7 linked regions of the Homo sapiens genome follow. The protein of the gene in region 2 interacts with the protein of the main gene of each other region in a biochemical or structural test. Each region holds a gene or a part of one and is shown on either strand. Other genes may lie near its edges.

Region 1 (3,500 bases), on a different chromosome or scaffold from region 2:
TCAGAGCATTTATTTAACACCTACTGTGTGCTCAGAAGTGTATCAGGTATGGGGACTCAGAGGTAAGGGCTGGTGGCCCCTGATCTCAAGGTACTCGTGGTAGATAGTATGATGCTCAGCTTAAGGGCTGGGCTTCTGAAGTCGGATTGCCATTTTCTGGATGTGTGGTGTTTCTTGGGTGACTTCATCTCTAAGTCTCAGTTTCCCCATCAGTAAGATAAGAGAAGTAATAGCAGATACATACGTAGCTCTTAGGGCATTGCAGAATGGAAGGACCTCCTTATATGAAACGCAAAGCACTGTGCCTGATGCATTGCTAGAACTCAGGCAATATTAGCGTGTTGTCATTGTCATCATCATCATCATCATCATCATCATCATCATCATCATCTTCAAGGCACTGACAAAGGAGTCAGCTGTGTGGGAGGAGTGCTGGGACACTCTTGTCTCCCTGGGGATGAGGTGGGTGGGTGGGTTAGGAAATCTTCACAGAGAAGGAGGGTGATGTGAGACTTCTGTCCGGGAGCTGACTCGGAATTTGCCATCTAATATGTTGGAAAAGGTTCTCTGGGCAGAGGTATCCAAAGTCACTTTGCCTGTCACCCTTTGAGGTCCCAGTTGTTGCCTATATCATGTGACCAGTGTGTGGCTTCTCTTGAATTAAGAGCTGCATGTCTGGACTGCCTGGGATTTTACAGATGTCATCTCGTTAACTCTCCCTGGAGCTTGTGACACCCAGGAGATGGCAGTTTATAGAAGCCCTGGCACCTTCTTGAATGATGCTTGGTTTGGTTTCTATGCACTGGGAATTCCTCACAAGGAAAGATTTGTCACATCTTAAGGAAGGAAAAAAAGGCAAATTTGGGAGTCCATGGATACCCTATTATTTTAGATTCCAGGACAAATTGTCGAATAAGCACGTTTCATAAAAACAATCCTCCGCAGCATCCCGTGACAGCAGCTGGTCCCTCGCCACAGGATAATTATGTCTCCTTGTGCACACAAAAGTCTCCGAGGGCATATTGTTGTGGCTGGAGTTTCTGATAATTTCCAAATTGAACAACCTCAGTCCTAATGAGTCAGAGGCTTGTGCAATATTTTCAAACCTCAGGAACATCTTTTTCATTAGTTGTGCAATAAAGATGGTAGGCCTATCTCTGTGATGAGCTGTTTTTTTTTCTCAAAGTTTGATGAGATTCGCCGTAGAATTCCTTCTCACATAGTCTTGGGCAAGATTTTACCCGATCTTCCAACACATGAGTCATCTCATATCCTGTGACTAAGAAGAGCTGTCTCTTTGGTGCCAGTTTTCTAAGTGCAGTCACCACTTGATGGAGACGGATGGACACAGTTGGGATTGCCCAGGCAGATGGGCAATCTTGCCAGCTAGACATAGGGGAGGGAAGCCTCAATGTTCAGCGGTCACATCTGCTTTTCTGTGGCACAGAGTGAGCTATACAGGAATATTGTATTCTCCAGGACAGTTAGGGCAGTGGGAAATGTCATCAAACAGAACAGTGACCCAAAGAGCCACTGCCACTGGGTGCTCTGTGGGAGCTGGGCACTGTGCTCATTGTGTTATGGGCCTTGCTTTGTTCTTACCTTGTAGCCACCCAGAGAGGCAGGGCATTATCCTTGCTTCCTAGCTGAGGCCACAGAAGAGGCTCCTAGAGGTTAGCTGTAACTTGTCCAAGGCCAGCCAGTGCAAGGAGGCAGAGCCAGGATTTGAGCCCATGTCTGTTTCACTCCCAAACTATTCTTCAGATTTCTTTAAGTCAAGTGTTATTTAGAAATGTTTTGTTTATTCATCAAATATTTGGTGGGTGTTTCCAGCTATCTTTCTGTTATTAATTTCTAGTTTAATTCTATTGTGGGCTGAGAATATATTTTGTATGATTTCTATTCTATTACGTTTGTTAGGGTGTATTTTCTGGTCTAGAATGTGGTCTGTCTTGGTGAGTGTTCCCTGTGTGCTTGAGAGGAATGTGTGTTCTGTCATTGTTGAATGGAGTGTTCTATAAATGTCACTTAGGTCTAGTGGATTGATAGTGCGGTTCAGGTCAACTGTATCCTTCCTGATTTTCTGCCTACTGATCTATCAATTCCTGAAAGAGAAGTGTTGACGTCTCCTGAGTCTATTCTGAAACACTGAATTGCGGTCTCCATGATGAACCACTAGAGTTAGAAAACCTGGGTCCTAGCCCCATTTGGGCCTTTGGGATGACTCCCTTCTGCCTCAGTTTCCTCATCTACAACAGGGGGACAATGATGCTGCCTAGGAGACATCAGCAGGATACTGTGAAAGTCCAGTGGCATAAGGGGTATGGAGGAGCTTCGTCAACTCCTAAAGCTTCAGTGCTAGGAATCCTAAAGCATTGAAATCCAAAGATATAAGGAATATGAAGGAGTTTTGTCAATTCCTAATGCTTCAGTGCTAGGAATCCTAAAGCATTAAAGTCCAATGATATAAGGAATATGAAGGAGCTTTGTCAACTCCTAAAGCTTCAATGCTAGGAATCCTAAAGCATTGAAGTCCAGTGATATAAGGAATATGAAGGAGTTTTATCAACTCCCAATGCTTCAGTGCTAGGAATCCTAAAGCACTGAAGTCCAATGATACAAGGAATATGAAGGAGCTTTGTCAACTCCTAAAGCTTCAGTGCTTTAGGAGTCCTAAAGCATTGAAGCTGTAAGAGATTAGGACCTCTAGTTGGCAATTCCAGACTCTTCCAGGACTCCTGATAGAGCCAACACCAAGAATAGTGAAGCCAGAAGGATGGAAATAGTAAAATGCCTCCTGGGTGTCAAAGCATGGGTCTCCTCTGGGCATGTTCTCTTGTCCTACTGAGACATGATAGCTCTTGGCCAAAGTGACTGAACTTGACCCTCTGTTTCAGGAAGGCCAAATGCAGGGTTCACTACCATCATGTCCAAGGGCAGATGCGTTGGTCCAGAACATCAGCATCCCAATCATTATACCAAGCAAACAGCCGTCTCTGCCTGCACCGTGGAGAGCACACGCTCCTCCTGGGGTGGCCTGCATCCTGTGTTCTTCTCAGGCCGACTTTCTGTTTAATGTTTGCTGGTCAGGAAATGGCCTGAGCTGAGGTTCTTCAGATCCCAGTCTGACCTTTCTCCACCAGCATTTGTGGCTCTGAAAAATATAGCCCAGTGTGGTTTAGCCCCACTGGATGAAACCCAGTAGGAAAAGTCTGATAATAGCAGAAGACGCACAGGAGGAAGAGTGAGGATTTGAGAGCATCTGGGAAGGACCATGTGCCTGGATATCGTTCTGTCTGTGGGATTCTGTGACACTTGTCATTTACAGTCTGTTCCCATGGAATTCTCATCATTGGCCAAACATATAGTCCTTCTGTCCTCTGAAAAATATCATTCTGCTCCGACCTTTCACACCCATCTCTGACCACATCAACTCCCTGTTTGCATGCATCTTGTGGATGAAGGACACCACTTTACCTGTAAAGACACTGGTGGCTTCC
Region 2 (3,500 bases):
GCACTGACAAGGCTGGAGTCGTGGCCGAGTACCCGGCCGAGAAGCTGGCCTTCAGCGCCGTGTGCCCGGACGACCGGCGATTTTTCGGGTTGGTTACCATGCAGACGAATGACGACGGGAGCCTGGCCCAGGAGGAGGAGGGCGCCCTGCGGACTTCCTGCCACGTGTTCATGGTGGACCCAGACTTGTTTAATCACAAGATCCACCAAGGCATTGCTCGGCGGTTTGGGTTTGAGTGCACGGCCGACCCAGACACCAATGGCTGTCTGGAATTCCCGGCGTCCTCCCTCCCCGTCCTGCAGTTCATCTCTGTCCTGTACCGAGACATGGGTGAGCTGATTGAGGGCATGCGGGCCCGCGCCTTTCTGGACGGGGACGCCGATGCCCACCAGAACAACAGCACCAGCAGCAACAGTGACAGCGGCATTGGGAACTTCCACCAGGAGGAGAAGAGCAACCGGGTCCTTGTGGTGGACCTGGGTGGGAGCTCGAGCAGACACGGCCCCGGAGGCAGCGCGTGGGACGGTGTGGGTGGGAGGGGTGCCCAGCCCTGGGGTGCTCCCTGGACTGGGCCCTTCTGTCCGGACCCCGAAGGGAGCCCCCCATTTGAGGCCGCTCATCAGACTGACAGGTTCTGGGACCTAAACAAGCACCTAGGGCCAGCCTCTCCTGTGGAGGTGCCCCCAGCTTCCTTGAGGAGCTCAGTCCCCCCTTCCAAGAGGGGCACCGTGGGTGCTGGCTGTGGTTTCAACCAGCGCTGGCTCCCGGTCCACGTGCTCCGGGAGTGGCAGTGCGGACACACCAGCGACCAGGACTCTTACACAGATTCCACCGATGGCTGGTCCAGCATCAACTGCGGCACACTGCCCCCTCCTATGAGCAAGATCCCCGCAGACCGCTACAGGGTGGAGGGCAGCTTCGCGCAGCCCCCGCTGAATGCCCCGAAGAGGGAGTGGTCCAGGAAGGCCTTTGGAATGCAAAGCATTTTTGGTCCCCATCGAAATGTTCGAAAGACTAAGGAAGATAAAAAGGTAAGCCTGCCAGGAGCCACTCAGCGCGGAGGCCCGGCCTCCTCACTTAGCAGTCACGGGGAGGTGACTCCCAGTCACCAGCTTGCACAGTCCTGGCTTCCTCCTGCTGGCCCTGTGGCCTCTGTGGCCATCACAGGGTGTCTGCGTTGCCTGTGGGCTGCGGACTGTGTCTTGCTGGGACCTCTTGCCCCCTGCCCTGTTCGAGTCCTTGGTTCTGGTTCTGGCTCTGATGGCTGGTCCTGGGCAGGACATCTGGGCAGGACTGGTGGTGGCGAGAGGGAAGTTGTTGTCTTGGAGCTCAGGATAAGGCCCTTCCTCCCCTTCCTGCTCCTCCCTAGCTCTGTCCCTGTGGCTCCTTGAAGCCCATTTTAGGTCTGACCCCAGAATCTTCATCCCAGTGTCCCACACCCCTCTTGAGGCGAGAATATTCTTGAAGCACTGAAAGCTGGTTCCTCGTGCTGTTTCCTCCATGGGGAATATCCTGTTGTGTAAAACACCAGCTGGACTCCGCAGTGGGCCTGGGGAGCCCCACGCCGCCTGCTCACTGAGGGGTACCTCAAGGTGTGTAGTGCTGCCTTGAAGACCTGGACCCATCAGCATCCCTTTGGGGGCCCTGCCTTTAGGAGCTAAGTTTGGAGCAGGAAAGAGTAAATGAGCAAAGCTGGGAACCCTCTGGAAGGGACTTTGTCCAGCAGGAGGCGGTGCTGCCAGTGTGGGAGTGTGCGGGGCTGTGCCTGTGCGGTTGGGTGCAGGGAACCCTCTGGAAGGACTTCCTCCAGCCAGAGGCGGCGCTGCCGTGTGGGGCTGTGCTGTGTTTGGAGCCAGGGCCCTTGTGACAGGTGATGGGGGTGGGCACTTAGCTCCCTTTGTTTCAGAGAAACTACTCCGGCTGTTTACGATGTAAAGACACCTTTTTAGTGTTTGTTCACATCCTGAGACCATCCTAAGAAGACCCTCTAAGGCTGCTGGCTGGGTAGGCAGGGCCGGGGAGTAGGAAAGGCCGTGTTTGATGAATATTTCTACTTGATTCCCCCTCCCCTAGTGTTTTCCATGATGAAATGTAGCACCTGAGAGCATTTAAAGGCAAGGAAGGAGCCGGCTGCCGTGGCACACGCCTGTAACTGAGTGCTTTGGAGGCTGAGGCAGGAAGCTCGCTTGAGCCCAGGAGTTCAAGACTGCCGTGAGCTGTGTTGCAGCCACTGCACTCTAGCCTGGGTGACAGAGCGAGACTCTGGCTCTAAAATAAAATAAAATTTAAAAAATGGAGGAAGAACAGATTTCTCGTTTTATCTCCTCAAAATGATCACTGATAACATTTTGATGTATGTAAGCATAGAATTTTTTTTTTTAAAACACTTGTAATCATATGGATTTTCAACATCCTCTTTATTTTTGGGGACAGGGTCTGGCTCTGTTGTCCAGGCTCAAGTGCAGTGGCTCTATCATAGCTCACTGCAGCCCCTGCTCCTGGGCTCAAGTGATCCTCCCACCTCAGCCTCCTGAGTAGCTGGGACTACTGAGTAGCTGGGACTACAGGCACTTGCTACCATGCCTGGCTAATTTTTATATTTTTTGTAAAGATGGGATTTTGCCATCTTGCCCAGGCTGGTCTTGAATTCCTGAGCTCAAGCGATCCTTCTGCCTCAGCCTCCCAGAGTGCTGGGATTACAGGCATGAGCCACACGCGCCTGGCCTCAGCCTCCTTAGAGGAGTCGTTCTGCAGCTGCACGTGCTGCTGCTGTCTTTCCTTGTCTCTTGATCTGAGCCCTGGTCTGGATTCTCAGGGAGGTGCCCTCCTGCCCGCCCTGGGCCTCACCTCACTTCTCCGTGGAGCCTGTAGGTGGTGGGGCAGGGCCACTCCCAGGGAGCTGGCCTCAGTGTGGGCTGCCTGTATTGGGCAGGGATGGGAGGTGAAGGGCCCTGGAAAGTGGTGAAAATGTTCTTTGGAATCAGGAGATTCCTCATCTCTTTGAGTACATATTTAAAACTGTGTTTTCTCCACTGCTGTGGTGTAGTGAAGGTTGACACTGGTGTTTATGTGGTTCTTTGTGGATTACAGGGCACCTTCACCTGCTTTCTCCTTGAAATTCAAAGTGACCTGGACAGTGGGGAGTATGATGCCATTTTAGATAATTGGCAGTGGTGCTTATGGTCCTCAGCGGACCTGAGAGACAGATAATGCTGTCGTCCCCATCCCACCAGTGAATGGACTCCTCCTTGGGGCGGGTGACATGGGGGAATAGGTGGGGTTGTGATGCCAGCCTTGGGCTTCTTTGCAGTGAAGATGAGGGTCCTGGCTGTTCCCACCCACACTGGAGCAGAGCAGAAGGGGAGCTAGCATGTCCTCAGGGTTGGAAATAACGGTGTGGCGGTCACTGCTTTGCAGAGTGCATCCTTACCTTGATAGGAATCCTGAGGCCATCAGGCCAGGCGATTGAGGTTTGGCTGTCAGGTGACTTGCTCACAGTC
Region 3 (3,500 bases), on a different chromosome or scaffold from region 2:
ATTTTAGTTAAATTTTGCAGGCTAAACCAAGTTGAGAAAGCATCAGCTGTGTCTTTATACACAGGCCAAACAAGAATACAGTTTTCATAACATTATGAAAAGGAAAAAAAATGAAACAGAGTAGTGACTGAACCACAAATTATGTCATATTTCAGATTTAATAGGGTACTGATTTATCTGTACTCACCAGTGGTTCCCCAGCTCTTTTGTGAATACCAAGAATACGAATGGCATCTACTGGTAATAACTGATTATTGATAGAAGAATTATTCATTTCTGGGCTTGATGGAGGTGAATCATAACACTTTGATGCCACAATATCATGGGCCTCCAACAGTGACTATAAGGAGTCAAAATAGCCTGTGGTTATTTATGATATGTGGATGAAATTTGTTACTAAAAGTACTTTGTTATTTCATTATTCCAATGGAGTACTAAAAATTTCCAAGGCACATGGTATTAAATTCCCAAATATCAGGTTGATCAAATAAATATATAATTTTTAAGAGATATAAAAATATATAGTTTTATTATCATCAAACAATATTATATTCCTTCTTTGAGATATGAAGAGATATTAGTGATGCTTTTTAAAAACTGGCAAGTTCACTGGAAACTGAACCTAGGTTTCCAGTCTGGTGCAATGAAGGTACTGGGTTTTATTGCCACCACTGTCATCATATCATTCAATATTTACCATCAATCCTATTTACTAAAATACCATAAAAATTCAAATTCAAATGACATTTTTACCTAACATTGCTATGTTAGTAATATGATATACTTTTTATATGTAGAAAACGTCTGTTAAAAGATGTCCAACAGAAAATGGATAAATATTAGCATCTTATATCAGTGACAAAAAATTTTATATTACCAATAAAGGTTTTAGTTTATAAAAGGAACATTTTTTGAGCAAAAAAACAAGTCAGTAATAGTCCCGAATATAACGTATTTTTTTTACCTCCTATACTTACTATGTATGTGCTACCAGCATGGGTGGTTTTGATCTAGCTTTCTAGGAATTGCTTTTTTTTTTTCTTTTTTGAGACAGAGTCTCACTCTGTCACCTAGGCTGGAGTGCAGTGGTGTGATCTCGGCTCACTGCAACCCCCACTTCCTGGGTTCAAGTGATTCTCCTGCCTCAGCCTCCCAAGTAGCTGGGACTACAGGCGCATGCCACCATGCCCAGCTAATTTTTTGTATTTTTAGTAGAGACGGGGTTTCACCGTGTTAGCTAGGATGGTCTCGATCTCCTGACCTCATGATCCGCCCACCTCGGCCTCCCAAGGAATTTCTTAATTAATACTAAAATGTTAAATTTTTTTTCATTTCTTATCCTAAAAGAATAATTTTTAGGGCAGGCGCGGTGGCTCATGCCTGTAATACCAGCAGTTTGGGAGGCCGAGGCAGGTGGATCATGTGAGGTCAGGAGTTCAAGACTAGCCTGGCCAACATGGCAACACTCTGTCTCTACTAAAAACACAAAAAATTAGCTGGGCGTGGTGGTGTGTGCCTGTAATCCCAGCTACTCGGGAGGCTGAGGCAGGAGAACTGCTTGAACCCGGGAGGCAGAGGTTGCAGTGAGCCGAGATTGCACCATTGTACTCCAGCCTGGGCAACAAGAGTGAAACTCTGTCTCAAAAAAAAAAAAAAAAAAAAGAATAATTTTTACTGCAACTGTGCATATTCAACATAAAGATAAGTTAACATTCTTGAGGGGCTGGATAGAATTCAAGTTCAAAAACAATAAATCAAAATAGAAAGAAGCAAATATTAACAGGTTCGGGAAAAAAGCAATCAGGATAATTGGTAATTTCTGGTCATTTCATAAAACAATTTGTGAAACACTGGAGAAAAAAATTCAATAAAACAACTCATAAATCCATATGTAAGGATTCTTCCTATAAATGCTGGAAGTTGCTAACCTGCGCTGCTTAGTTTTCCACCCTATATCCTCCTTTGGCAGTTTCATTTACTCCTGTGACTTGAGCCACTACTTATGCATTGACAACTCTTAAATTTCTATCTCTAGTTCAGAAATCTCATGTGCTTCAGATTTTTATAGTAAAAATTTGCCCACAACTCGTCAAAGTCACGGCAATTTGAAAATCAAAAGTAGGGATTGTAAAAGATTAAAACACTGAATAAAAAATCCATAGATCCACAATGCTATTTAAAAAAAGACTGAAAAAACTCATTTGTTACCACTTGAAACTGCAATTTTAAACAGCTCTTCACTTTGAAACTTAGTAAAAGGAAGGATCAAGTACATTCCTGCCTCTTCAGTAGAAATGCACTAAGCAGCCCAGTTGATGAGAAGCTCTACATTATGGAAGAATACTAGCTAATAATGTAGAACAGAAAAACGTCATTTTGCAACCTCTAATGAAAATTCTGATTTACAACCCAAAAGCTAGAATAAGATGAGAAATAACAAAAATTAGAGCTGAGCTGAAGAAAACTGAGACACAAAAAACCTTCCAAAAGATCAATGAGGCTGGGCATGATATGATGGCTCACGCCTGTAATCCCAGCACTTTGGGAGGCCGAGGTGGGCAGATCACCTGAGGTCAGGAGTTCAAGACCAGCCTGGCCAACATAGTGAAACACTGTCTCTACTAAAAATACAAAAATTAGCTGGGTGTCACGGCACGTGACTGCCTAGTCCCAGCTACTTGGGAGGCTGAGGCAGGAGAATTGCTTGAACCTGGGAGGTGGAGGCTGCAGAGAACCGAGATCGTGCCACTGCACTCCAGCCTGGACAACACAGTGACTCCATCTCAAAAAAAAAAAAAAATTAATTAAATTAAATTAAAACAACAACAACAACAACAAAAAATCAGAATCCAGGAGTTGGGTTTTTGAAAAAATTAATAGACAAGCCACTAGCTAGACTAATAAAGAAGAAAAGAGAGGAGAGCCAAATAAACACAATTAGAAATGATGAAGGGAATGTTACTACTGAACCCACAGAAATAAAAACAACCATGAGAAACTACTATGAACACTTCCATGCACACAAACCAGAAAACCTAGAAGAGAGATAAATTCCTAGACATATACAACCTCCGAAGACTGAGCCAGGAATAAATTGATTCCCTGCATAGACCAATAACAACCTCCGAAATTGAATCAGTAATAAATAGTTTATCAACCAAAAAAAGCCTGGGACCTGATGGATTCACAGCTGAATGCTATCAGATGTACAAATAAGAGATGGTACCATTCCTACAGAAAAGCTATTCCAAAAAACTGAGGAGGAACTCCTCCCCAACTAATTCTATGAGGGCAGCCTCATCTTTATATCAAAACCTGGCAGAAACACAACAGAAAAAGAAAACTTTAGGCCAATATCCTTGACAAACATTAATGTCAAAATCCTCAACAAAATACTTGCAAACCAAATCAATCGGCACATCAAAAAGCTAATCCACCATGATCAAGTAGGCTTCATCCCCAGAATGCAAGGTCTGTTCAACATTTGCAAATCAATAAAT
Region 4 (3,500 bases), on a different chromosome or scaffold from region 2:
GCTGAGATTGATATTTTTGAATACTTAAGAGCCAGGGTTTATTGAACTCATACTCTGTTCTAGAACTTTACTAGGCATGGGAGACATGGAGATGAATGGGTACCACCCTTGTCTTCTAGGAACTCATGGTCCAGGATAAATAATATGATATTTTTTCCTTTGTGGTCATCAGTTCAAGGAATACCGGTCAAAATGGTAACAGAAGATCAAATTTAAAATTTAAATTCATGGTACAGGTTCACCAATGATTTCCTAGAGAGATTGAATTGCCAGTTTGTATTGTCATTCTTTAATCTCAGGACTAGTACCTGTTGGGCCTTATTATTTTTATTCATATTTGGTATGACACATAATAGTACTCCATAGCCCTTTCAGTTGTGCTTCTTTGATAAGGTTGTACATTTTCTGTGTTAATTTCCAGCTTGCTTTCTTCATGTGAGAGTTGTCAATTCACTTGCTTTGAGCATGTGAAATGTGGGTATCTACTATGTGTATTTATGCCCATTCTTCATATATTTGTATTATAAGCTTTCCCCACTTCAGGATTTTTTTAAATTTACTTATTTTCAGCTGCTTTATTGATAGATAATTTACATACCATACAATTCCCCCATTTGAAGTGTACAATTCAATGGTTCTTAGTGTATTCACAGATCTGCAACTGTCACAAGTCCATTTTGGAAGGTTTTCATCCCCCACAAAGGAAACCTATACCTATTAGCAGTGACTCCCAAACCTCCCAAACCTCCCTCCCTGAAGCCTTGGACAACCCCTAATCTACTTTCTGTCTCTATAGATTAGTCTGTTCTAGATATTTCATGTTAATGGAATCATACAATATGTGGTCATTTGTGACTGGCTTTCACTTAGCCAGATTCATCCATGTTTCATTCCTTTTTATTGCCAAATATTCTGTTCTGGAATACGGTATTTTATTTATCCATGTCATTAGTTGATGGACATTCGAGTTGTTTCCACTTTTGGACATTTACAGAAAATGCTGCTATAAATATTCATGTGCAAGTTTTTGTGTAGACATTTATTTTCATTTCTCTCCGGTACATACCCAGGAGTGCAATTGCTGGATCATGTTGTACACCATGTTTAGTCTTTTAAGAAACTTCCAGACACTTAAAGGACTTTCTAGAATTTCTATTCAGTTTCATTGGTGAAAGCCACACTATGCAGTTTTGATTATTGCCTTTGTCTGAAAGGAGTGCTTACTTTTCAACTGTAACTTTTCTGAAATCTAAGTATTTCTGATAGAAATTTAGAGTTCAAATTGATACGCGCTGTAAGTGTAAAATAGACCCTGGATTTTGAAGACTTAATATGAAAGAATGCAAAATCTCTCATCAATAATTTTTTGTATTAACTACGAGTTGAAATGATACTATTTTGGATATATTGAGTTAAATAAAATATATGTTATTAAAATTTATTTCACTTATTTTTTTCCTGTTTTTATGTAGCTATTAGAAAACTTAAATTTACGTATGCGGTGTGTATATTTCATTTGGACCGCACTGCTCTAGAAGCAGTGCTAGTGTGCCTATTGAAGAAAGTAGCCCCAATTTGAAACCTGCTTCCCAGCTGTATGACTTTAAGCAAGTTAAAATCTCTCAGAGCAAGATTTAGTCTTTTCACCTATAAAACAGGAATAATAATTGTACCCACCTCAAAAGTTTGAGGGTTGAGTGAGATATATATATATATATAATGTTAAATCACTCCCTAAAATATAGTTAGTATTCATAAATGTTATTAATTATTATTGTCGTTATTGCTGTGATTACCATCAATTTGTCAAGTTGTTTTTTAATCTGGAAGAATTTTTTATTTATATTACATTAAATCTCTATTTAATTTAGAACTTTTTTTTTTTTTGATACTTAGTGTTTCCATCCAGGAACCCAGCATAACTTTAACCCAATTATTGTGTTTTCCTTTATTGCTTTAAGGAAAGTTATATTATTTTCTTTAAATAAATCCTTCTTCCCCTGAATTACATTAGTACACATCACTAGTTTTGTTACTTGAATCCTTTCTTGGCATTTTCTAGATATTTAGCATTCACTCATTAAGAATGCCTAACACCGAATGTACATTCAGCTAATCTGCTTTTAATGAATTGTTTGATCCTTTTTGTGGCTGTGTTTTGTGTTTTTATCCTGCATCTCCACTAAACTTATCTTCTGGCACTAAAAATTTTCTTTGTTCATCATTTTCTGTGTGAATGTCATCTGCTAAAAAACAAAAAAAAAATAATAAGGTGGTACTTTTCCATTCCTGTGCTCATTATTCCTCTTGTCATTTTTCCTTCCCTGATAACTATTATTAGCATTTATCCTACTACATTAAATAAAACACCAAATTGTTTGTTTGTTTGTTTTTGAGATAGTCTCGCTCTGTCACCCAGGCTGGAGAGCAGTGGCATGATCTCAGCTCACTGCAACCTCAGCCTCTTGAGTAGCTGGTACCACAGGTGTACACCACCAAGTCCTGCTATTTTTTTGTATTTTTAATAGAGACAGGGTATTGCCATGTTGCCCAGGCTGGTCTTGAGCTCTGGGACTCAAGTGATTAGCTAGCCTCAGCTTCCCTAAGTGCTGGGATTACAGGCATGAGGCACTGCACCTGTAATGTCAAATGTTGATTTTTGACTTTTAGTATAGAGTGTTATTTATTGCATTTAGAAAAACCTTTTTATAGCTCTAAATGTTTTTTACAAAATCAGGAATAGGCTGGGTGCGGTGGCTCCTGCCTGTAATCCCAGCACTTTGGGTGGCTGAGAGGCAGATCACTTGAGCTCAGAAGATTGAGACCAGCCTGGACAACATGGAGAAACCCCATCCCTACTAAAAATACAAAAAATTAACCGGGTGTGGTAGCACGAGCCTGTAGTCCCAGCTACTCAAGAGGCTGAGGCATGAGAACCGCTTGAACCAGTGAGCTGAGATCATGCCACTGCACTCTAGCCTGAGTGACAGAGTAAAACCCTCCCTCAAAATAAATAAATAAATAAATAAATAAATAAATAAATAAATAAAAGATTGAAAAAAAATCAGGAAGAGCTATGGGCTTTATTTAGTGTGAATTTTCAGTTTTCTGTTTCTTCCCTCTCATTAGGTCTCTCTGCTGCTCCAGCTCAGTATTACCTGCATGCTGGCCTAGAAGAAAGACTCCCTCTGCTTCTAGGTTGTGTGGGCTGGGTCATCTATTCATACAGATCCTAAATTTGCTCTAAGTCAGGGCCTGGGGGGGATCCTTGGTGGATAGTGTACACGAGACTTTGGACTTGTGCTTGTCACTTACATTTTGGCTCTGTGAGACAGTTTTTCATATTTCCGGATCCTTGTTGAAACTGGAGATCATTATAAATGAGAGGGAGATGATTTTCAGATAAGTGAGGGCCTATTGCATTAGGCAGGGTTCCTGAAAGTGTTTGGTAAATGGATGAGAATAAATGATAGACCTTAACCGCAGAGTCCCAAGACAGC
Region 5 (4,272 bases), on a different chromosome or scaffold from region 2:
TCTGTTGTAAAATGATGCAGTAAAGAGACAAAACAATGACATATATGAAGAAAAGTCTCCTCTGTGATGTGTGCAATTGTGTATCTCATCATCAGTATGCCTGCATTTAGTAGCTCTGTAGAAGCACCATGATGTGTCATACCCCCTGCCAGGTGATGGGGGTCCGCTGAAGGAAATGTTGAGTCCATCAGAGAAGTCAGCCATGCAGGTGGACAATTATATTATAAAGTGATGGATGCAATCGTATAAGTATTATATGGGTGTGGTTGAACACAGAGAAGCTAGCAACAAACACTATTTGGTTCTTGAAAGAATAGCAGGAGTTTTCCAATCATGGATAAGGGATGGAAAGATAAGGGAAGGTGACAATTTCAGAAAGAGAGAAGAGCATGTACAAGATTAGAAAACTAGGGAAGGAGGCCAGGAGAAGTTAGCAAGGTTGGGGTTGCGTGTTGAACAACAAGTCTAGAGAGGTGAACTTAGAATAGGTTGGTAAGGTTGTTGTATGCTAAATTAATAAGTTTGGATTTCATTTTTTAGATAATAGAAGCAATATAGAGATTTATTTGTTCAGGAAGTCAGTGTTGTTGGTAGAATGGAGTACAAGCTGGAGACTGACTGAGAACTGGCAGCCGAGTAAGTAGGCCATTGGAATGGTTAAAAAGAAGAAAGCTGCATTTTTTCAGCTAGGGTAGTAGCAATTCAGACAGAAGACCTTTCTTATATATAACCTCTGAAATTTAGTGACAGTTGGAATTTGATGGCAGCTGTAAGTGGAGGGCAACAAAGAAATAACTTTTAGTAAAAAAATGAATGGATGTAGAGTTGACTTAAGTCTTTTGTTTGCCAGATTCCAAAGTTGGGATTTCCATCCTGTCTGATGACTGACCTCAGAATTTAGACTGATAGAAATTACCATGTTAAACAAGAAGTCAACAAATGCTACTGGTGTGGCCTGTTACCAAGGTAAGCAGAGTAAGTTAGTCTGGGATTTGCTTAAATGTCTTCTTATCAGAAAACTTTTTCTCGGTACCAAGTAGCAGCCTCATCACCATCCATTCCATCCTGTCCCCCTACCCAGCTTTATTTTTCCATCCTAACTCATTGCCACATGACATCATATCTATTTCCTCTTTTATTTTCTCTCTCCCTGCACCAAAAAGTCAACTTTAGCAGGAACAGACGACTTTCTTCTCTATTGCATTTCCAGACCCAGAATAATGTCTGGTACAGAGTAGTCAATAAGAAATATTTGTTGAATGTTGAGTGATTATTTGCCATGCAGTGACCTAGTTTTTATTCCACAGAACTAAAGCTGTGAAGTTTCCAGGTTTGACTTAAACTCCAATGGATTCTCTGAATGGTAATTTACCACCTGCCTGAGATTGTGTGATATGTTGAGTACCTGATATCTATCCATCTCTTTCTCATCTGTCCCCCTACCAATACTCATTTCAGCTGCACTTCTCATTATTGGTGAACAGCATGCTATATTCCCAAGTTGCTCAGATCAGAAACTTGGAGCTAATTTTTGACCCCCATCACATTTGTACCTTTATTTAGTTGCCTTACAGCTTTTCACTTGTTCTCTCCTGAATTGGCACTTTATTGCTTAAACCATCATCCTGAGATTTTCTGATCTCTCTCTATTTAATTCCTCACTGTGGTTGTCCATCCTGTATTGCAGAATAGCATTTCTCAAATGTTGTTTTCATGATATTTTCAGAGACTTCTTGTTGCTTAAGAAGAATAACTTGAACTTTTCAGTTTAAAATTCTAGTCTGTTCTTCAAGTTGCTCTCTATTTCTTATTAAACTATCTTGATATTTTCCCAGCATTTCTCACAATCGGTCCCAAACTTTTGCAGATATATATTAGTATATATGTAAAGATGCACACTATAGTGTCTAATTTACTCATTTCTAAAGCATATAATCATAGTTAAAAATATAGAAATCATGCCATCATATGCAATCTTAATTACTATATGACTAATTAAAAGACCACCTTTGGATAAAAACATTTCTCAATTATTTTACATGAACTTCAAAAACCTTTTTTAGCACATTTCATCTTAGTTGTGAAGCAAATACATTTCACATTTCTGAGGGAATTTGTCATGAATTTAGGCTTGAGGTAAAAAGGTTTTGGGAAAGGAGGGCATTCTAAGGAGTAAGATAGATATGTAAAGGAGTAATTATTATAAAATATAAATGCAATGATATAGGCACAAAACATTCTCTAACACACACACACACACACACAGACTTACTAGCATTCTTCAAATAGTACAAAGAATGAAATACATTGAACCCACATTCTTACTTCATTTATCACATTTTATGCTAAGAGCAGAGTGAAAATAATATAAACTAAAAATTCTAACAAAAATCTACTTAATTAAGTCACAAAACAATCCAGTCAGCAGAGGACACTCACCTAGAAAATGTAGAAACAAGCAAATGTACACCAGTTTGTTTCTTCCTAAATAGACATCAGTGAGCCATCTGACAAACACAGGGGTAAGTATTGAAGTTCCAATAAAACACAAGTTTAAGATGGCTGCTTGGCAATTGTGATAGCCAAGCTTGATAGTGCAAAAGGGGATCATGTTGCAGACGACTTCAAAGAACGTGAACCTCTCACACAGCTCCACCAGAAGCAAGCAGATTCCAACCTGAATTTTTTTCACAGAGTGTGAGGAACACAAATCGCCAATATGTCTTACAGTTTTCTCCTTCTCAATGCTGTGATATAAGTGTACTTTCTCATCAGTTATGGTAAAGCCTGTAACAGACATGACTACCCTCCTTGAACAAAACTTATGTTAGTGGTTTGAACTTGGTGATATTTTGAGCCCCATCCCTCTGATGAAAAAAATAAGAACGTTGCTTTGAATTTCACATCTCCATGCTAGAATTTCATAAGGTTTGTTTTTTGCACATGGACGTTGTTCCTTTTGATGATCCAAGAGCATGAGTATTTAAATGTTCACAGTAGCTCAGTGTACCCAAATCTGATTTGTTTGCTTAATTACTTAGCGGCTAAATTAGGATCGTCCTCCAAAATTGTATTGAATTACATGAATCCAGTTGCAAACATGTGGAAACTCATCTGCCTCATACTGATAAAGGTTTAAATATTGAGGCAGAAGAAGCAGGTTTTCGGGAGAATTTGAGCACTAGATCAAGAAATAATTTGAGTCTAATAATTTCTGATACTTTAATTAAACAAGCCAGAACAGTACCAAGAGATAAAGCGCAAAAGGAAATCTGTTTTGAAGGGCACGATATCTTATCATTATTACATTTCTTGTTATTTTTGGTTGGAATTCTGATAAGAAACTTAATTAGGTAACAAAAGTGCTAGTACATTTAGGTAACAAGCAGAGTTTACAAGAAAGTAATTTAAGTGCACTAATGAAAGGAGAAAATATTAAACGAAACCCTGCTTCCTTTTAGTTGACCCCATGCTTGTAGAACAGCCTCTCAGAGGAAATCAGAATCAAAAGGTGCTATTTAACTCCTTTATTATTAATCAGTAGTCAGGGATACAGCAACCAGCCTACACAGGCTTTGGGGAATATTGGATCTGGTATCACCCTGACCCTTCAGCTGGGTGAATGGGTGTTAGCATTCTATTTTGGAAAGCAGGAGGGCCAATTAAGCTAAAAAAGCAGCAGTGAAAGAGAACACCTTAACATTTAGTGGCTTAGCTGCAAGGACATAGGAAGAAAAGGGACCGGAACTATTGGGTCAAAGTCATAATAATTCAACACTTGAGTATAGGAATGTTATTTTCATGCTGTAGTCAAAACCTAAAGACCAATAGGGACTTTTGACTCTGGTTATCATCTTTTGGTTGTGAGAGACTGGGGGCAAAATACTCTGTTTTGACCCCTTCTAATAGCCTCATTGTAATGGTAGCTATTTGTCTCTGCTCAGCATTGCTACTTTGGTAACGATGCCCTAAATTTCCTTTGTGTAAATTGATCATGCAATTTATGATCCAAACTTGGACAGTTTTGTGCAGGTGAAAAGTGATGCTATTTATGGTTACTCCCCAAAAAAAAAAAACAGTTATAAACTGGGACTGTCCAGGGCAACACTCTAACATGTGTTCACCCTACCTTTGGAGAATGACTCCTATCTATTACCTGAGATCATGGTGGGGCTGTTGATCAGCATATGCCTTTTCTTCTAACCAAGTGGGTCAACACCCGGTCTAAGATAGTCCTTTTACTTTTCTCCTGTGGAATTTTAATCTTGAGTG
Region 6 (3,500 bases), on a different chromosome or scaffold from region 2:
CTAAGACTGAAGGTAGTCATAAGGACGGTGCTTGAAATTAAGTTGAAATTGGATGAGACACTCAACAAAAGTATTAATAGGATGTTTCTGTCATCAGAAAAAGGTGTAGAGAGAATGAAGGGAGACAAAGGGCATGGGGGAACAGGTAGAAAAAAAAACAAGAGCTTTTCCAGAGTCATAATATCTGCACAATAGTTCACATGGTCCTAAGCCAAACGAGATATTTTTGAAAACTAATATGAGAAGACGTTTCAGTACTTTCCTCGTTTAAAAAAGTCTGCTACTATATTTACACAACCTGAAAAAATCCATAAATGTCTAATTTCTTATTTCCACGAGCTTGATTTCAAATTTTCTCTCTCATTTTTGTCACTGACTCATCTGCTTTTCTGGTGAACAACCACAAGCAATGCTTCACCAAAAATGACACCAACAAACCTTTAAGGTGTTACAGCATCTTAACACTTCCACTTACTTATGGGGTGTGCTACGATCTAAATGTTTATGTGCCCTCAAAATTCATATGTTGAAATCCTAATCCCCAAAGTGATGGTATTAGCAGGTGGGGCCTTTGGGACGTGATTAGGGATTAGTGCCCTTATAAAGGGGCCCAAGAGAGAAACCCTCACCCTTTCTACTATGTGAGCACAACAACAGAAAGACAGCCATCTGTGAACCAGTAAGTGGGTCCTCACCAGACCCTGAATCTGCTAGCACCTTGATCTAGGGGTTCCTAGCCTCCAAAATTACGAGAAATAAATTTCTGTTGTTTATAAGCTATCCAATTTCTGGTATTTTTGTTACAGCAGCCTAAATGCACTAAGACAGAGTGGTTTCTGGTATTTCTGTTACAGCAGCCTAAATGGCCTAAGACAGAGTGGTTTTCAAATGTATACATCCAATTACCAACCAGAAGCATTTTCTTCCCTAAATAAAGAAAAAAGTGCTATAGTTTGGATGACTGTCCCCCCAAATCTCTGTTGATATCTAATTCCAACATTGGAGGTGGGGTCTAATGGGAGGTGTTTGGGTTATGGGGGTGGACACCTCATGAAGAGATTAATGCTGTCCCAGGGTGGTGGTGGGCAGAGAGTGAGCTCTGCTCTATTAGTTCTTGCAAGAGCTGGTTGTTAAAAGAGCCTGGAACTTCTCTCCTCTCTCTCTCCATTGCCTCCTTTCTCTCCATGTAATCTCTGCACATGCAGGCTAGTCTTTGCCTTCTGCCATGATCGGAAGCAGCCTGAGGCCCTCATCAGAAACTGAGCAGACGCCGGTGCCATGTTTCTTGTGCAACCTGCAGGACCATGAGCCAAACAAACCTCTTTCTTTACAAATCACCCAGCCTCAGGTATTTCTTCATGTCAACACAAATAGACTAAGATAGAAAGCAAGGCTACTCATCTAAAAAACCATAAGTGCACTTGCTTACATGAAGGTAGGAGGTTTTTCTGGCCAGTCTCTCCATAGCTTTGTTAATTTGGGTGGGAAAAACATAAACAACTCTGTAACCCATATGTTATTCATAAGCTTTAGCCCTCCACCTTTACATCTTAGCCCAAATGAACTTGAATATCCCTCTTTCACACATTTCCACCACTGCAAAACAGACAGAGGATAGAAATCCAGAGAATGGGTTACTCAGGGGCAGCAGGAGGCTTACAATGAAACCAAATTATTGAGTAACAATCTCTTTTCTTCTAGATAACAACTGCTTTAAATTCCTAAACTTTCTTCAGTGATTTATTTGAAAAAATGTTAAAATCCTACAGGTGTCCAGCACTTAATAGACAGTCAAGAAATGCTTGATAAGACTTACTGTGCCCTTATGTACATCATCTCATTTCATCTTAATAACAACCCTAACAACAGGCATATTATGATCCCATTTTAGAGGTGAGGCAATTAAGGCTTGAAGGTTAGAAGAGCCTCCCAGGGGCCCTCAACAACAGGGCAAAGAGAACACATGAACCCGAATATTGCTGATCCCAGGATATGGATACTAACCACACGCAATACACTAGCTCTATTCAGGGCACCTTGGAGTCAGCCTGTGGACCCAACGCCTGCATCTAACCTTCACCCACGATCTGATGGGACTTCATCCCTCACCTATCCAAACACAGCAAAGACACGGGGCACCTAAAAACAGCTTTTAGCAAAATACTAGGGGTGATCTCCTGCCCAGGACTCTTCTCTGCACACACACTGCTGATGCCAGGGGAAAAGCTCATCACTGCCCTTCCTGGGGATGGGGTGGCTGCAAGGCCTGCAACATACAAAGATTACGCGGTGCCTCTGCTCTTTAAATTCCCTGTAAATATATGGATGGAATGAGTGAGAAAGATGGCTGCTCAGGTCCATCTGGTAGTTATTTTCTTTACAAGAGTAATCATTATGTTATACCACTTCCCTTTCTTATTGTAACAGGCTTATTAGGACACTATTAGTCAAGGGGAGACAGAGGCTAACCCATGGCATAAAAGCTTGGGTGAGCAAAGAATAGTAAGACTTGTGCTTTCAAAGGCATATGTGGGTGTCTGATTGATCCCCTGGGTTAAAGCTGCTCAGTTTTACCTTTCTATCCAATGGTGCCTACCACAGGGCCTGGCACTAGGGGTATGAGAATGTGAGGAGCTAAACTGCAGAATACATTTGGAAGAACTTCACTTCATTCCTACTGTTAACCACTCTTAAAATTACCAGGATAAAAATTAAAGAGCTGTTCTCATATTCCATCCAGGACATCATCTCTTTTTTGTCTAAATCTATTTTTTTTTTTAACAGGGTCTCACTCTGTTGCCCAGGCTGGAGTGCACTGGCACGATCTGGTCTTGGCTCGCAGCAACCTCTGCCTCCAGAGTTCAAGCAATTCTCCTGCCTCAGCCTCCCCAGTAGCTGGGACTACAGGTGTGCACCAGCACACCTGGCTAATTTTTGTATTTTTAGCAGAGACTGGGTTTCACCATGTTGGCCAGACTGATCTCAAACTCCTGACCTCAAGTGATCTTTCCGGCTAGGCCTCCCAAACTGCTGAGATTACAGGCGTGAGCCACCATGCCCAGCCTAAATCTCTTTCACAGCCAGGATCTGTTTTGTTTTGTACTCCATGTGCTCTACACTGGACCTATGTAAATGGGAACATGGTATGGGATGAAAACATTTCATGGACCAGAAGCCAACAGGCAAACTAACATGAGCCAGTGGAGGACACTTGGCAAGTTATTTAACTTTCTGAGCTTCTGTTTTTTCATCTGTAAAATGGAAGGAAAGAGTCATGGGTAAGAGCACCGACCTTGCAGGGTCTTTCTGAGGATGAAATAAAATAATGCATGTACACCTCCAATCCAAACAGTACTTGGCATACATAATAATGGTGCTTTGAAAGCCTGTGTGAGACTTCAGAGAAGGGCACCGCCCCAGGAAAAAATTCTTTTCTTATTTTGGTAACAGTGTGAGCTCGGAGATGGGCCACACTGGGTTCAAATCCCAGCTCTACATTT
Region 7 (3,500 bases), on a different chromosome or scaffold from region 2:
ACTCCGTCTCAAAAAGAAAAGAAAAAAAAAAAGAAATCTCTTTTTTATCCTTTCCCATTACCTAAAAGGCTAAAGGAAGATGAGGTACATAAAGAGGAAAATATTTTCTACCTCATACCTTTAGCTTAGCAGAGCTTTGTTCCCTAAGGTCAATTTTGCTAATTCTCAGTGCAGTGTTACTGACAATCCCACAGCTTTTTACCTTTTCCATGTTTATTTTTACTTTTAAATAATAAAAAGGCAAATGCTCCTTGTCCTTCTACCTTTGTCAAAATACAAACTGTGGCTCACTTTTAAAGTCAATGTAACTTACTAAAGGAAAAAAATGAGCTTAAGTTTTTTTTTTTTTTTTTTTTTTTTTTTTTTTTTTGAGACGGAGTCTCGCTAGGTCGCCCAGGCCGGAGTGCAGTGGCGCGATCTCGGCTCACTGCAAGCTCCGCCTCCCGGGTTCACGCCATTCTCCTGCCTCAGCCTCCCGAGTAGCTGGGACTACAGGCACCCGCCACCAGGCCCGGCTAATTTTTTATATTTTTAGTAGAGATGGGGTTTCACCATGTTAGCCAGGATGGTCTCGATCTCCTGACCTCGTGATCCGCCCGCCTCGGCCTCCCAAAGTGCTGGGATTACAGGCGTGAGCCACTCTGCCCAGCCATGAGCTCAAGATTTTAAAAAGTCCTCAGCATCCTTGATCCTTTGGCCATGAAAAGAAGGTAACTTCTGCGCATGTGCAGTTACCCTTTGCTGTCCCATCACACTATTTGCCCTATAAAGGAACATCCGTTGCTCTCTTTTGAAGTACAAAGTTCCTCTCGGCCCTGTTTTCTGACCCTAAGTAACTAGCTTCACTCCTTCTTCTGCTTGTTCTGGTCTTGCACTCATCAGTTTGCAAAACTTCATGACTGAATGATGTCCCCTCCCTTGCCAGGATGGTGATGTGATTGGCGTCAATTCATTGAGGGTGACTGATGGAATCTCCTTTGCAATTCCTTCAGATCGAGTTAGGCAGTTCTTGGCAGAATACCATGAGCACCAGATGAAAGGTAAAGCAAGTTGGGATTTTTTTTTTTTTGGTTTCGTCTTGTGCTTTTCAGGAACACTCAATCTTTTGTGGTGACAGCAATTTTTTTGTTTTTGTTTTTGAGACAGAATTTTGCTCGTCATCCAGGTTGGAGTGCAGTGGCGTGATCTTGGTTTACTGCAACCTCTGCCTCCTGGGTTCAAGCGATTCTCCTGCCTCAGCCTTCCGAGTAGCTGGGACTACAGGCACCCACTGCCACGCCCAGCTCATTTTCGTATTTTCAGTAGAGACGGGGTTTCACTATGTTGGCCAGGCTGGTCTTGAACTCCTGACCTCCAGTGATCCGCTTGCCTCGGCCTCCCAAAGTGCTGGGATTACAGGCATGAACCACCATGCCTGGCCCGGAGACAGCCATTTGAATCCTGTAGACTACTGGGTCACTCATTTGTACTCAGCTCCTATAATGGTGATTTGAGCAGCAATATTGGGGGACTAGGCACAAACCAAGCATGAGTTGTACCCAGAAGTATTTGGATTGAGCTAATGTGGAAATGAAACCCAGGGGCTGGAGGTGGGAGGTGGGTGGGAGGAGTGTAAGTGCTAATGACAAAGGTTCTCTGAAGCCTGTGTTTCATCCAGGTAACCTGAAAGGACAGCTGTGATGGCAAAGAGATCCTGGGACATGGGTGTCTTTTAAGCTGCGCTAACAGGAAAGAGGTTTTGTTGTAACACATCATAACTTTCCTTTCCAGGAAAGGCGTTTTCAAATAAGAAATATCTGGGTCTGCAAATGCTGTCCCTCACTGTGCCGTAAGCATGTGTTTGAATATGTCTGGGTTGTTTTTCAGAGGCAAAAACCATAGCTGCACAGTCTTAACAGAAAAGCTGAGCCACTTGGACCACAGCCAGGTACTCTTGTGACCATAGGCCCTATCTGTCTCAGGGTATGTATCTGCCTCTGCCTGCATCAGCACTAACTATACATAGTTTATTTCATTGTGGCTGTATTTTATAATGTCCAGTGGTTCTAGGCTTTGGGATAGAGGCTCAGCCCGAACTGAGAGGAGAATGACTGTGATTAGCTTGATGGAATCTTCCTCGGCCCTTGTGAACCTTGAGCAGAACAGAGTACCTACTAAGAATTTCAGGCTTTTACCAGGGCTCAGGAGACTAATTCATTGTTTCCTAATCTTCTCACTTCTCTTAGCCTTAGTGAAGAATTGAAAATGCATTATCCAGATTTCCCTGATGTGAGTTCTGGGGTTTATGTATGTAAAGTGGTTGAAGGAACAGCTGCTCAAAGGTAAGAGAAGTGAAGGCCTTTGTCATCTACCTTTGCTTTTTCTAAATGTGTGCCATGGTAAAATGCATGGGGGATCCAGACTTGATCTGTCCAATACAGTGGCCACTACTTACATGTAGTATGTACTGAGCACATGAAATGTGGCCAGTGTGACTGAGGAACTGAATTTTGAATTAAAGTAAGTTTAATTTAAATTAAAAAACCCAGGCCAGGTGCAGTGGCTCATGCCTGTAATCCCAGCACTTTGGAAGGCCAGGGTGGGTGGATCACCTGAGGTCAGGAGTTTGAGACCAGCATGGCCAACATACTGAAACCCCGTCTCTACTAAAAATACAAAAATTAGTGGGTGCGCCTGTAATTGCAGTTACTTGGGAGGCTGAGGCAGGAGAATCGCTTGAACATGGGAGGCAGAGGTTGCAGTGAGCTGAGATCACGCCACTGTACTCCAGTCTGGGCGACAGAGCAAGACTCCACCTCAAAAAAAAAAATATTATCATTATATAGTAGTATATTGGGGGGGTGTGTTATTTCAAGTGGATTTCAAAGACATAGGAAACAGAGTGTAAAATAACTATTTTAAAAATATCACGTTAAATGATAATATTTGGATATATTGTATTAAATAAGATATATTATTAAATTAAATTCATCTATTTAAAAATTTTTAAAAATGTGGCTACAAGAAAATTTAAAATTATGTATGTGGCTTGCATTATTGTCTACAGGACAGTGCTGATTCAGACTTGGGTACTTATAAAGGCTTTTTTTGTATTTTGGGAGGGAGGTGGTTCTCTATAGTCTAAGAAGAGCTCATGTTATGAGTTAATAGCATAAGTTTAAATTAATTTGGCTAGGAATTCCCAAATCTACCCTTTCAACATTAATAGTTATTACTTAATAACTATTAAGTGATTAACACCTATTAGGTATTAGTAACTATTAATTATTCATTAATAGTTTTTTTTTCTTTTGAGATGGAGTCTCACTCGTTGCCCAGGCTGCAGTGCAGTGGTGCAATCTTGGCTCACTGCAACCTCCACCTCTCAGGTTCAAGCAATTCTCCTGCCTCAGCCTCCCGAGTAGCTGGGATTACAGGCACCCGCCACCACGCTTGGTTAATTGTTGTATTTTTAGTAGAGACAGGGTTTCACCATGTTGGCCAGGCTGGTCTCGAACTCC

What was found.
Region 1: the proteins of RGS12 (region 2) and HTRA1 interact in a test that uses a peptide from one of them, tested with the Homo sapiens proteins (one large-scale study listed by IntAct).
Region 3: the proteins of RGS12 (region 2) and PALS2 interact in a test that uses a peptide from one of them, tested with the Homo sapiens proteins (one large-scale study listed by IntAct).
Region 4: the proteins of RGS12 (region 2) and FRMPD1 interact in a test that uses a peptide from one of them, tested with the Homo sapiens proteins (one large-scale study listed by IntAct).
Region 5: the proteins of RGS12 (region 2) and SLC15A5 interact in a test that uses a peptide from one of them, tested with the Homo sapiens proteins (one large-scale study listed by IntAct).
Region 6: the proteins of RGS12 (region 2) and PDZRN3 interact in a test that uses a peptide from one of them, tested with the Homo sapiens proteins (one large-scale study listed by IntAct).
Region 7: the proteins of RGS12 (region 2) and HTRA4 interact in a test that uses a peptide from one of them, tested with the Homo sapiens proteins (one large-scale study listed by IntAct).

What each region holds. Positions count from the first base shown.
Region 1 is NC_000010.11:122,468,053-122,471,552, forward strand, and holds part of HTRA1 (serine protease HTRA1 precursor), read left to right. Parts: intron 1-3,500. UniProt on the Homo sapiens protein: Serine protease with a variety of targets, including extracellular matrix proteins such as fibronectin. HTRA1-generated fibronectin fragments further induce synovial cells to up-regulate MMP1 and MMP3 production.
Region 2 is NC_000004.12:3,317,021-3,320,520, forward strand, and holds part of RGS12 (regulator of G-protein signaling 12), read left to right. Parts: coding exon 1-1,031; intron 1,032-3,500. UniProt on the Homo sapiens protein: Regulates G protein-coupled receptor signaling cascades. Inhibits signal transduction by increasing the GTPase activity of G protein alpha subunits, thereby driving them into their inactive GDP-bound form.
Region 3 is NC_000007.14:24,646,452-24,649,951, reverse strand, and holds part of PALS2 (protein PALS2), read right to left. Parts: intron 341-3,500; coding exon 188-340; intron 1-187.
Region 4 is NC_000009.12:37,702,954-37,706,453, forward strand, and holds part of FRMPD1 (FERM and PDZ domain-containing protein 1), read left to right. Parts: intron 1-3,500. UniProt on the Homo sapiens protein: Stabilizes membrane-bound GPSM1, and thereby promotes its interaction with GNAI1.
Region 5 is NC_000012.12:16,274,886-16,279,157, forward strand, and holds the start of SLC15A5 (solute carrier family 15 member 5), read right to left. Parts: upstream 2,801-4,272; coding exon 2,440-2,800; intron 1,641-2,439; exon of another isoform or gene 1,308-1,640; intron 967-1,307; exon of another isoform or gene 1-966. UniProt on the Homo sapiens protein: Proton oligopeptide cotransporter.
Region 6 is NC_000003.12:73,614,942-73,618,441, forward strand, and holds part of PDZRN3 (E3 ubiquitin-protein ligase PDZRN3), read right to left. Parts: intron 1-3,500. UniProt on the Homo sapiens protein: E3 ubiquitin-protein ligase. Plays an important role in regulating the surface level of MUSK on myotubes. Mediates the ubiquitination of MUSK, promoting its endocytosis and lysosomal degradation. Might contribute to terminal myogenic differentiation.
Region 7 is NC_000008.11:38,980,728-38,984,227, forward strand, and holds part of HTRA4 (serine protease HTRA4 precursor), read left to right. Parts: intron 1-925; coding exon 926-1,040; intron 1,041-1,770; coding exon 1,771-1,828; intron 1,829-1,866; coding exon of another isoform or gene 1,867-1,895; exon of another isoform or gene 1,896-2,218; intron 2,219-2,225; coding exon 2,226-2,321; intron 2,322-3,500. UniProt on the Homo sapiens protein: Serine protease.